2 separate regions of the Homo sapiens genome follow, and region 1 is linked to region 2. Evidence: fine-mapped expression QTL. A gene starts in region 2. The other region holds a variant in brackets. All regions are shown on one strand. Distances are from middle to middle. Region 1 overlaps PABIR3 (PABIR family member 3). Region 2 holds the start of PABIR3 (PABIR family member 3).

Region 1 (5,381 bases), 29 kb before region 2:
CCGGACGGGGTGGCTGCCGGGCAGAGACGCTCCTCACTTCCCAGACGGTGTGGCTGCCGGGCGGAGGGGCTCCTCACTTCTCAGACGGGGCGGCTGCTGGGCGGAGGGGCTCCTCACTTCTCAGACGGGGCGGTTGCCAGGCGGAGGGTCTCCTCACTTCTCAGACGGGGCGGCCGGGCAGAGATGCTCCTCACCTCCCAGACGGGGTCGCGGCCGGGCAGAGGCGCTCCTCACATCCCAGACGGGGCAGCGGGGCAGAGACGCTCCTCACTTCCTAGATGGGATGGCGGCCGGGAAGAGGCGCTCCTCACTTCCTAGATGGGATGGCGGCCGGGCAGAGACGCTCCTCACTTTCCAGACTGGGCAGCCAGGCAGAGGGGCTCCTCACCTCCCAGACGATGGGCGGCCAGGCAGAGATGCTCCTCACTTCCCAGACGGGGTGGCGGCCGGGCAGAGGCTGCAATCTCGGCACTTTGGGAGGCCAAGGCAGGCGGCTGGGAGGTGGAGGTTGTAGCGAGCCGAGATCACGCCACTGCACTCCAGCCTGGGCACCATTGAGCACTGAGTGAACCAGACTCCGTCTGCAATCCCGGCACCTCGGGAGGCCGAGGCTGGCAGATCACTTGCGGTTAGGAGCTGGAGACCAGCCCGGCCAACACAGCGAAACCCCGTCTCCACCAAAAAAATACGAAAACCAGTCAGGTGTGGCTGCGCGCGCCTGCAATCGCAGGCACTCGGCAGGCTGAGGCAGGAGAATCAGGCAGGGAGGTTGCAGTGAGCCGAGATGGCAGCAGTACAGTCCAGCTTCCGCTCGGCATCAGAGGGAGACTGTGGAAAGAGAGGGAGAGGGAGACCGTGGGGAGAGGGAGGGGGAGGGGGGAGGGGGGGAGGGGGGAGGGGGAGGGGGAGAGGGAGAGGGAGGAAAATGATGTTTTTTAAAAAAAAAAAATTTGGCCAGGCACAGTGGCTTGTGCCTGTAATCCCAGCACTTTGGGAGGCCGAGGTGGTTGGATCACGAGGTCAGGAGATCGAGACCATCCTGGCTAACACGGTGAAACCCCGTCTCTACTAAAATTAGCTGGGCGTGGTGGCAGGTGCCTGTAGTCCCAGCTACACGGGAGGCTGAGGCAGGAGAATGGCGTGAACCCAGAAGGCAGAGGTTGCAGTGAGCCGAGATTGCGCCACTGCACTCCAGCCTGGGCGACAGAGCGAGACTCTGTTCCAAAAAAAAAAAACATTTATCTTGGTCTTCATTGTGGAAGTTGGATAAACTGGGAGAAACAGAAAATCTACTGGGATATTATTTCAGTAATCTAGACCCATGGGACAGAAGAAGGAAGCAGCAGTGACAACAAAGAGGATATTGTCAAGGAAGAATTAGTAGGATTAGAAGCCTAATTGGATACAGTAGAAAAATAAGGAAGAACTGAAGAAAAATCAAGAGCTTTGAGTCTTAAACCTGTGACTATTTTGATACCATACAATGAGGTATCAAATCGAGAGCTTTGAGTCTTAAAACTGTGACTATTTTGATACCACACAATGAGGTACAGAAAATGAGGGAATTGGAAAAGGTAATTTAAGAAGATAATTAGTCTTTTAAAAGCAATGGAATAACAGTAAATTCAGCAAAATGTAATTGTTAGTATAGTTCTTCAATTTAATATTATATAGATAGTCTCCTCTAGTGTGAAACTCAAAGTATTTTGTAGTTCATTCGGTCAACAAGTACAGAGCAGGTAGTTTTGTGAAACTGAGATAGAATTCTGCTTAATATTCCTCCCACTGAAAGTTGGAGCATTAGCTAAAATCAGCTATTGAAGGTTGTTAGGAGAAGAGTGTTGACTCTTTTTCATTTATGTCTTGCCTATTTCCAAAATGGATTTGAGATGGTTTATAATAAAATAAGATTATTAAAATAAGTATAAAAGGTCAACAGCCATGCATTATAACTGTAAGAAGCAGAGTACAGTATACTAGAAACCTAGTTTAAGGAGAATTGTTATACTTGGATGTTAAAGTTAGCTTTCCATTTTTCAGGATACATGGTAAAAATGGGAACTGTAAGTTACCAACTTTTGCTCTCCGAGGAGACTACATCTGAAAGATTTTAGTTACTGAGTGCCTGCACAGTACCCAATAAAGGCTTGTTGAAAGAATGAAACAATCTGTAAACTAAAATCAAATTTAAATTTTTTTTTTTTGGAGAAGGAGTCTTACTTTGTCACACCAGCTGGAGTGAGTGCAGTGGTACAATCTCAGCTCACTGCAACCTCTGGTTCCCGGGTTCAAGCGATTCTCCTGCCTCAGCCTCCCGAGTAGCTGGGATTACAGGCATGCCTCACCAGGTCTGGCTAATTTTTATATTTTTAGTAGAGATGGGGTTTCTTCACGTTGGTCAGGCTGGTCTCGAACTCCTGACCTCAGGTGATCCACCCGCCTCGGCCTTCCAAAGTGCTGGGATTACAGGCGTGAGCCACCGTGCCCGGCCAGCAAATTAAAAAAAAAATTTTTTTAAAGAC[G/A]GAGTCTTCTTATGTTGCCCAGGCTGGTCTTGAACTCCTGGCCTCAAGTGATCCTCCTGCTTTGGCCTCTCAAGTCACTGGAATTACAGGCACGAACCACCACGCCCAGCTCAATTTCTTCTTATTGATTTTTACTTAAGACACTACAGAGAAAGTTAAGTTGTTACTGGGTGCCAATGACTCATATCCTGTTTAACAAATCAGGAATTAAATATAAAGCTATATAACAAAAAACTGTGAGCAGACTGTTATGGGTTGAATTGTGTCCCCTCAAATTCCTGTGTTGAAGTCCTAATCCCCAGTGCCTCAGGATGTGACCTTATTTAGAGACAGAATATATTCAGAAGCAAGCAGATTAGGATGAGGTCATTAGGGTGGGCCCTAATCCAATATGACCGCTGTCCTTCATGAAAAGGAGAAACTTAGAAACAAACACATGTACACGGAGAACACTATGTGAACATGAAGATAGCCATCAACAAGCCAAGGGCAGAGGCCTGGAGCAGATCCTCCCTCACAGTTCTCAGAAGGAATCAACCCTACTGACACCTTTATCTCAGACTTCTAGCCCTAAGAAATGTGAAACAATATATTTCTGTTGTTTAAGCCGCCCAGTTTGTGATACTTTGCAATGGCAGCCTGAGCAAATATACAAACTGTTTCTGCATGGCACTAATTTATGTTTAGAGCTTTGGGAAACAGGGAACTACAGACTGAATGCATTCGGATCTTTTGGAATACAAGCTCAATTTTTATTAGGGGCCACACGTGGTGGCTCATGCCTGTAATGCCAGTACTTTGGGAGCCTGAGGCAGGAGTACCACTTGAGGCCAGGATTTCAGGACCAGCCTGGGCATCACAGGGAGACGTCATCTCTCCAAAAATTTAAAAAAATGGCCAGGCGTAGTGGCTCATGCCTGTAATCCCAGCACTTTGGGATGCCGAGGCGGGTGGATCACCTGAGGTCAGGAGTTCTAGACCAGTCGGACCAATATGGTGAAACCCCGTCTCTACTAAAAATACAAAAGTTAGCCAGGTGTGGTGGTGGGTGCCTGTAGTCCCAGCTACTCGGGAGGCTGAGACAGGAGAATTGCTTGAACTCGGGAGGCGAAGGTTGCAGTGAGCCGAGATCATGCCACTGCACTCCAGCCTAGGCAACAGAGCGAGACTCCGTCTCAGAAATAAATAAATTAATTAAATAAAATAAAAAAATTATCCAGGCATAGTGGTGTGCACCTGTAGTCCTAGCTAGTTGGGAGGCTGAGGCAAGAGGATCACTTTAGCCCAGAAGGTTGAGGCTGCAGTGAGCTATGATCATGCCACTACACTCCAGCCTGGGCAACACAGCAAGAACCTGTCTGAAAAATAAATAAATAAAATAAAATTTTTATTAGAAAGGAAAATTACACAAAATAATTCCTATGTAGGAATAATAACTGTGTTTAGAAAATTAACTTCTAGCTTGATGTCTCAGTCTCTTTAATACTTAGAAAACAGCTAACAACAACAGTTGAGAAGAAATTGTCCATTACCTGCTTAATAGGAAAGGTGTAACATAAACCAAATATTGGCCCAGAACCTAACATTGACTTGGAGCTGTGTGTTCATTTAAAATTAAAAGCAAATTTCATCATACTATTTTACAGGAGGCCAGGCGCGGTAGCTCATGCCTGTAATCCCAGCACTTCGAGAGGCCAAGATGGGCGGATCACCTGAGGTCAGGAGTTTGAGACCAACATGGTGAAACCCCCTCTCTACCATGGCCAACATGATGAAACCCCCTCTCTACTTAAAAAAAAAAAAATTTAGCTGGGTGGGGTGGTGGGCGCCTGTAATCCCAGCTACTCGGGAGGCTGAGGTTACAGAATCGCTTGAACCAGGGAGGCAGACGTTGCAGTGAGCCGAGATCGTGCCACTGCACTCCAGCCTGGGCGACAGAGTAAGACTCCGTCTAAATAAATAAATAAATAAAAATTAAAAAAACTATTTAACAGGAAATAGAGGATAAAACAACATAGTAACACCACATGGAAGCAAAATCAGAATGTGGGACATTTTACAGGACAAATGGACTCCCTGGTTTCTTCAATAAATAAGAGGCATGGAACAAAAAACAGGCAGAAAATGCTGTTTTACAGCATGGTGCTGGTACCAAAACAGAGATATAGACCAATGGAACAGAACAGAGACCTCAGAAATAACACCACACATATACAACCATCTGCTCTTCAACAAACCTGACAAAAATAAGCAATGGGGAAAGGATTTCCTATTCAATAAATGGTGCTGGGAAAACTGGCTAGCCATATGCAGAAAACTGAAACTGGACCCCTTCCTTATACTTTATACAAAAATTAACTCAAGATGGATTAAAGATTTAAATGTAAAACCCAAAACCATAAAAACCCTAGAAGAAAACCTAGGCAATACCATTCAGGACATAGGCATGGGCAAAGACTTCATGATGAAAATGCCAAAAGCAATTCTAACAAAAGCAAAAATTGACAAATAGGATCTAATTAAACTAAAGAACTTCTGCACAGCAAAAGAAATTATCATCAGCGTGAACAGGCAACCTACAGCATAGGAGATAAGTTTTGCAATCTACCCATCTGACAAAGGTCTAATATCCAGAATCTACAAGGAACTGAAACAAGAAAAAACAAACAACCCCATCAAAAAGTGGGCAAAAGATATGAACAGACACTTCTCAAAAGAAGACATTTATGTGGCCAACAAACATACGAAAAAAAGCTCAACATCACTGATCATTAGAGAAATGCAAATCAAAACCACAGTGACATACCATCTCATGCCAGTCAGAATGGCGATGACTAAAAACTCAAGAAACAATAGATG
Region 2 (5,381 bases):
ACATCATTCCTATGTTACTTCTTTCTGACAGACTAGAGTCCCTGGACTCCGTCCACTTTGTGGTTTCTGTATCTTTAAACTCCTACTACAGAAATATGCTAGTGACCCTTATCTTTCTGTACAAATTTTACTTCATGCATCAGGATCTTAAGCTATGGAATGTAACACTGTAGCTATGCTCTAATATAAGCAAAAAACAAACAAACAAAACAAAAAAATCCTTTGCAGAACAAAGCAAGGTATGAAGGGATAACTGAGATCTCTCTGTTTCCAGGGCTTTAAGGATTAGGGAAGGGTCCACTCCTTCTCTGGTGTATTTAATACATTAAAGAGGATCCACAGGTTCCTTCCAGTACACATCTTCCATCGTCTATTTGCAACCTATTTCTTCTTTTTATATTGTCTTCAATAAATCCAACATTCTCCCTACTGCTCTCTTCTACTAGTAGAGTGGGTCCCATAATTCCTTTTTCCCACAACAGAATTAGAGCAAAATCCTGAGTGAATAAAATGTTCTTGTTCTCAGCACAACATGCAGAGTCCCCCTTCTATGTTTTTCTACCTGCCTATTTTAAAAAGGTAATGTATTTTTTTTTGGTCAATCTTAGTTTGCTTTTCATTTTGTGAACAATATATTCTCTCCTACCTCAAATGACCCAAAAGCTGCATTCATTTAGAGTTAATCAGCTTAGGTATTGGTTAGTAGTGGCCAGAACAGTAGTTTAGGAGTCAGGAAACAGAGCTTCCTAGTACTGGCTCTGCCACTAAACGTCATTTTGGAGATTTATGGGCCTCAGTTTCCTCATATGTTAAACAAGGAGGGTAAAGCTGGTCTCTGAATCCCTTCCTGATAGTCTATGGTACTGTGAATTACAACTATCAATTAGTATGATGCAACAAAAGGTGAAGAGCAAAGTTAGTAACATATGTAGTGAATGCATTTTTCAGACATTTTTACGGTATCTAGAAAACCTTATAATACTGAAATGTGAAATCCAACATCTCATTTTAAAAGTCTAGTTTAAGAAGTAAGATTTAGGCCAGGCGCAGTGGCTCACGCCTGTAATCCCAACACTTTGGGAGGCCAAGGTGGGCGGATCACAAGGTCAGGAGATCAAGACCATCCTGGCTAACACGGTGAAACCCCGTCTCTACTAAAAATACAAAAAATTAGGTGGGCGTGGTGGCGGGTGCCTGAAGTCCCAGCTACTCGGGAGTCTGAGGCAGGAGAATCGCTTGAACCCGGGAGGCAGAGGTTGCAGTGAGCCGAGATCATGCCACTGCACTCCAGCCTGGGCGACACAGTGAGACTCCGTCTTAAAAAAAAAAAAAAAAGGAAACAAGATTTAGTAATCCCAGATCTTCAGAAATACAGTTAACCATCATTTAGTGTAGTGTTTCTAAATCCTTTTTTCATTATTGACCCTCTAAAAAGCCTTTTTAGACATTTTTCCCCTAATTGCTCCCCCTTCGTGAAATTTTAATAACACATATATAGTATATATCTGTGTACATACTGTATGTATATCTGCGCTTTATACATAAAAAGAGTAAAAATTTTTCACACTCCCCCAAGAACTATTTTCTCTTCCCCTTGGGGGAAGTATCACCCAGTGAGAATGTGTAATTTAGGAGATCAAGCTTCTGTGGTACCAAAACTTTCTGCTCCAATAAAAAATAGGTGTAGGCCAGGAGCAGTGGCTCACGTCTGTAATACCAGCACTTTGGGAGGCTGAGGCAGGCGGATCCCCTGAGGCCAGGAGTTCGAGACCAGCCTGGCCAACATGGTGAAACCCTGTCTCTACTAAAAATACAAAAAATTAGGCCGGGCACGGTGGCTTACGCCTGTAATCCCAGCACTTTGGGAGGCCGAGGCGGGCGGATCACGAGGTCAGGAGATCAAGACCATCCTGACTAACACGGTGAAACCCTGTCTCTACTAAAAATACAAAAAATTAGCCGGGAGTGTTGGTGGGCGCCTGTAGTCCCAGCTACTTGGGAGGCTGAGTCAGGAGAATGGCGTGAACCCGGGAGGTGGAGCTTGCAGTGAGCCGAGATCACGCCACTGCACTCCAGCCTGGGCGACAGAGTGAGACTCCGTCTCAAAAATAAATAAACAAATAAATAAAAAATAAAAATACAAAAAATTACCAGGTGTGGTGGTGGGCGCCTGTAATCCTAGCTACTAGGGAGGCTGAGGCATGAGAATTGCTTGAAGCCAGGAGGCGGAGGTTACAGTAAGCTGAGATCGTGCCAATGCACTCCAGCCTGGGCGACAGAGCAAGACTCCGTCTCAAAAAAAGACAAAAAAAAAAATGTAAAAAAGTCCAAAGCTTATTTGCTTGACAACCATTTCCATTCAAGCGGCTGGAGGTGAAGGTCAGAGGTGACAAAGCAGCTGAAATGACAAATATTACAGTCATGGCAGAAGATCTGGAGGTGAGTGGGGGAGGATACTAAGTTTCTTCAAAGGAGTGGGTAAGAAATGGGTTGAAGTTAGAAAAAAGCCGTGCTCCACACCAACTGGCTGCTACTTTCGGGTCCGAGTGGACTATCAGGGGAGGATGTTCAGATTCAGATGTTTGTCAACCTCAGGGTGGGTGCGCGCTCCCCCTCAGGTCAGCCCGTCCCACTACCCCCACCCAAGGTTGAGGGTGGGATCTCCGGACACCAGGAACAAGGGAGTTACCTGCAGAACCTCAACAAATAAAGGGACGGGAATTCTATAGGAAATCACTTTCCCGAACACCTCCTCCCCACCGCTTGCCTCCTCCAGTATCTCAACCCGGCTCACCCAAGTCCATTGATCAAAGGGGCACTGTTGACTCTTCTCAGAATGTTGCCGTCTGCGGTAGTGGAACTCGGCAGCGACTTGAAACCTAGTTTCATTTTCTCCTGTGCCATGTCCGGGTCGAGGAATAAGTTCTCAAGGCTTTCCGGCTCCCGTCCACACAAGGACAAGTCTACTTAGTGGGCAGGTGATGTAAGGAGAGAGGCAAAGGGGAAAAAGAGAAGAGAGGAGAAAGCTCTTAGGCGAGTAGGGGTGCCCACCTTTGCAGCCCTAGCAGCCCTAACATCAGTGAACACAAAGTTAGGCAGAACTGGCTCCGAACCGCCTATCTCCCATGATCGGGGCCTCTAACGATGAGAAGATCCCCCACCTCCAAGTCTATAATGTAACTGGGGAATTTAATCTGTCACCGCCGCGAATCCTTCTCCATCTCTCTCAGCCCTGGCAACTCATGGTAAGCCTTTCCGGCCAAAACAAAAACTACAATCTGCCGCCTTTGACAATCAGTTGGGTCCCGCCCCTCAGAGCCTGCGATAAGCTATCAGCCGGACGACGCCTGTTGTGATGCAGGCAATGACGTCACTTCAGGCGCCTTAGTCAGCTTTGCCAGGGGCGCACGCGCAGTTAAGAAACCGCTTTATCCCCATGTCCTGCCCTCCTTCCTCTTTCCCCAATGCCCACTTACCGTGGTTGTGCCTCTACTCTTTTACTAACCCTGGCATGGTTTCCTTAAGCATTATTTAGAAATGAAAGCGTTGGGAGGAGTGAGGTCCTTCCTGCCCTATGCCTAATTCTCATTTTTCTTATCCCTTTATGACTGAGGCCAACAAGCTTCTAACCTCCTATGATGCATTTTTCCATCCTGTAACAGCAGACACACTACACCTTTGTAATTTTAGAAAAGCAAAAGTCTGAAAAAAAAAAAAAAAAAAAGATACTGCTACCTAAGTGCTTAGAGGCCACTTGGTCCCAAAGGGTCTTGCTAAGGTGCTAACCTAACTGAGCTCATTTGGCAAACGAATTACTGTTTTCAGTGTGGTTTCTTTCTTTCTTTTTTAAACCATAATCGTACAGTTTTTTGTTTTTTTTTTTTTGAGATGGAATTTCGCTCTTGTTGCTCAGGCTGGAGTGCAGTGGCCGCGATCTCGGCTCACTGCAACCTCCACCTCCCAGGTTCAAGCGATTCTCCTGCCTCAGCCTCCCGAGTAGCTGGGATTACAGGTGCTCGCCACCACGCCTGGTTAATTTTTGTATTTTAGTAGAGACGGGGTTTCACCATGTTGGCCAGGCTGGTCTCGAACTCCTGGACCTCAGGTGATCCGCCCGCCTCGTCCTCCCAAAGTGCTGGGATTACAGGCGTGAGCCACCGCGCCTGCCTCAGTGTGTATTTTTACATTATATATAATCTGGCTCCTCACAGCTATTCATATAAAAAATAAAGACCTCAGCTAATTTACAAAGATTTGAGTTAAAGCAGTGAGGCTTTTTTAAAAACAAATATCTCAGAATTTAGTATCAATGCAAATCAGTGTTTTCATTTCAGGTAGTATTAGAAGCTACATACATTCTAAGAATGCTGCCATGGCTCATATCGTTTTAAGAACTACTCTTTTAGAAATTTTCACCATCACTTAATGAGCCACACTGAGTACTGAAATCTTAACTCCATGCTAATAATTTTGTAAAACCACACATTTTAGTAACCATATAGAGAACTGGCAGACAAGGCAAATAAACCTAGTGAAATGGGAGTTATTAATTAAAATAGTCATAACACTGGTATAGCACTTTACGGATAACATTTTTTTTTTTTTGAGACGGAGTTTCGCTCTTGTTGCCCAGGCTGGAGTGCAATGGCGCAATCTTGGCTCACCACAACCTCCACCTCCCTGGTTCAAGCGATTCTCCTGACTCAGCCTCCAGAGTAGCTGGGATTACAGGCATGTGCCACCACTCCCAGCTAATTTTGTATTTTTAGTAGAGATGGGGTTTCTCCATGTTGGTCAGGCTGGTCTCGAACTCCCGACCTCAGGTGATCCACCCGCCTCGGCCTCCCAAAGTGCTGGGATTACAGGTATGAGCCTCCACGCCTGGCCTACAAAATGTTTTCACATACTTATCTGGATTGGTTCAATCATCAACCCTGCTCAGCTACCCAGTGGTGAACTTAAAATAATGGGACAGTCTTGAGATAGTTCGTGACAAGTTATGACATGTAAGGTAATAAATATGTATTCTTTGTTCATTCTGGGAATAGAATAAGACAAACTTGAGTATATTAGGCAGAATTAGATTACTTAAATCCCAGACATGAGGATGATGTGGAGTCTCCATTCCTTATATAAGACAGATTAGTAATAGCTACCGTTTGTTGGGCACTTACTATGTGCCAGGTACTGTCCTAATCACTTTAAATAGGTGATTGCATTTAAAGTTTACAATAATTCTTTGAGGTAGGCACCATCACAATGCCCATTTTTCACAGGAGGAAACCAAAGCCCAGAGGGGTTTACTCAAGTTGCAACTACTAAGTGGCAAAGCCAAGATTCCTCTGCCCTTCTGTTTAAGTAAAAAAAAAAATGAGATGCCT

Evidence for each region. PIP is the estimated chance that this variant, and not a neighbour inherited with it, causes the effect.
Region 1: its variant is fine-mapped to the expression of PABIR3 in whole blood (TOPMed, PIP above 0.99). The same link has a PIP of 0.9 or more in thyroid.

What each region holds. Positions count from the first base shown.
Region 1 is chrX:134,834,174-134,839,554 of GRCh38, reverse strand. All of the region lies in intron 4 of PABIR3 (PABIR family member 3), which reads right to left. Among named protein-coding and RNA genes, the nearest start is that of PABIR3, 30 kb to the right of the region's middle. The variant G/A (reference allele first, on the strand shown) is at 2,523.
Region 2 is chrX:134,805,122-134,810,502 of GRCh38, reverse strand. It overlaps PABIR3 (PABIR family member 3), which reads right to left and starts at 3,266. Exons shown (of 11, transcript NM_001388447.1): 1 at 3,162-3,266; 2 at 2,795-2,963. The coding sequence starts at 2,904. RefSeq lists enhancers at 1,408-2,364, 2,750-2,909.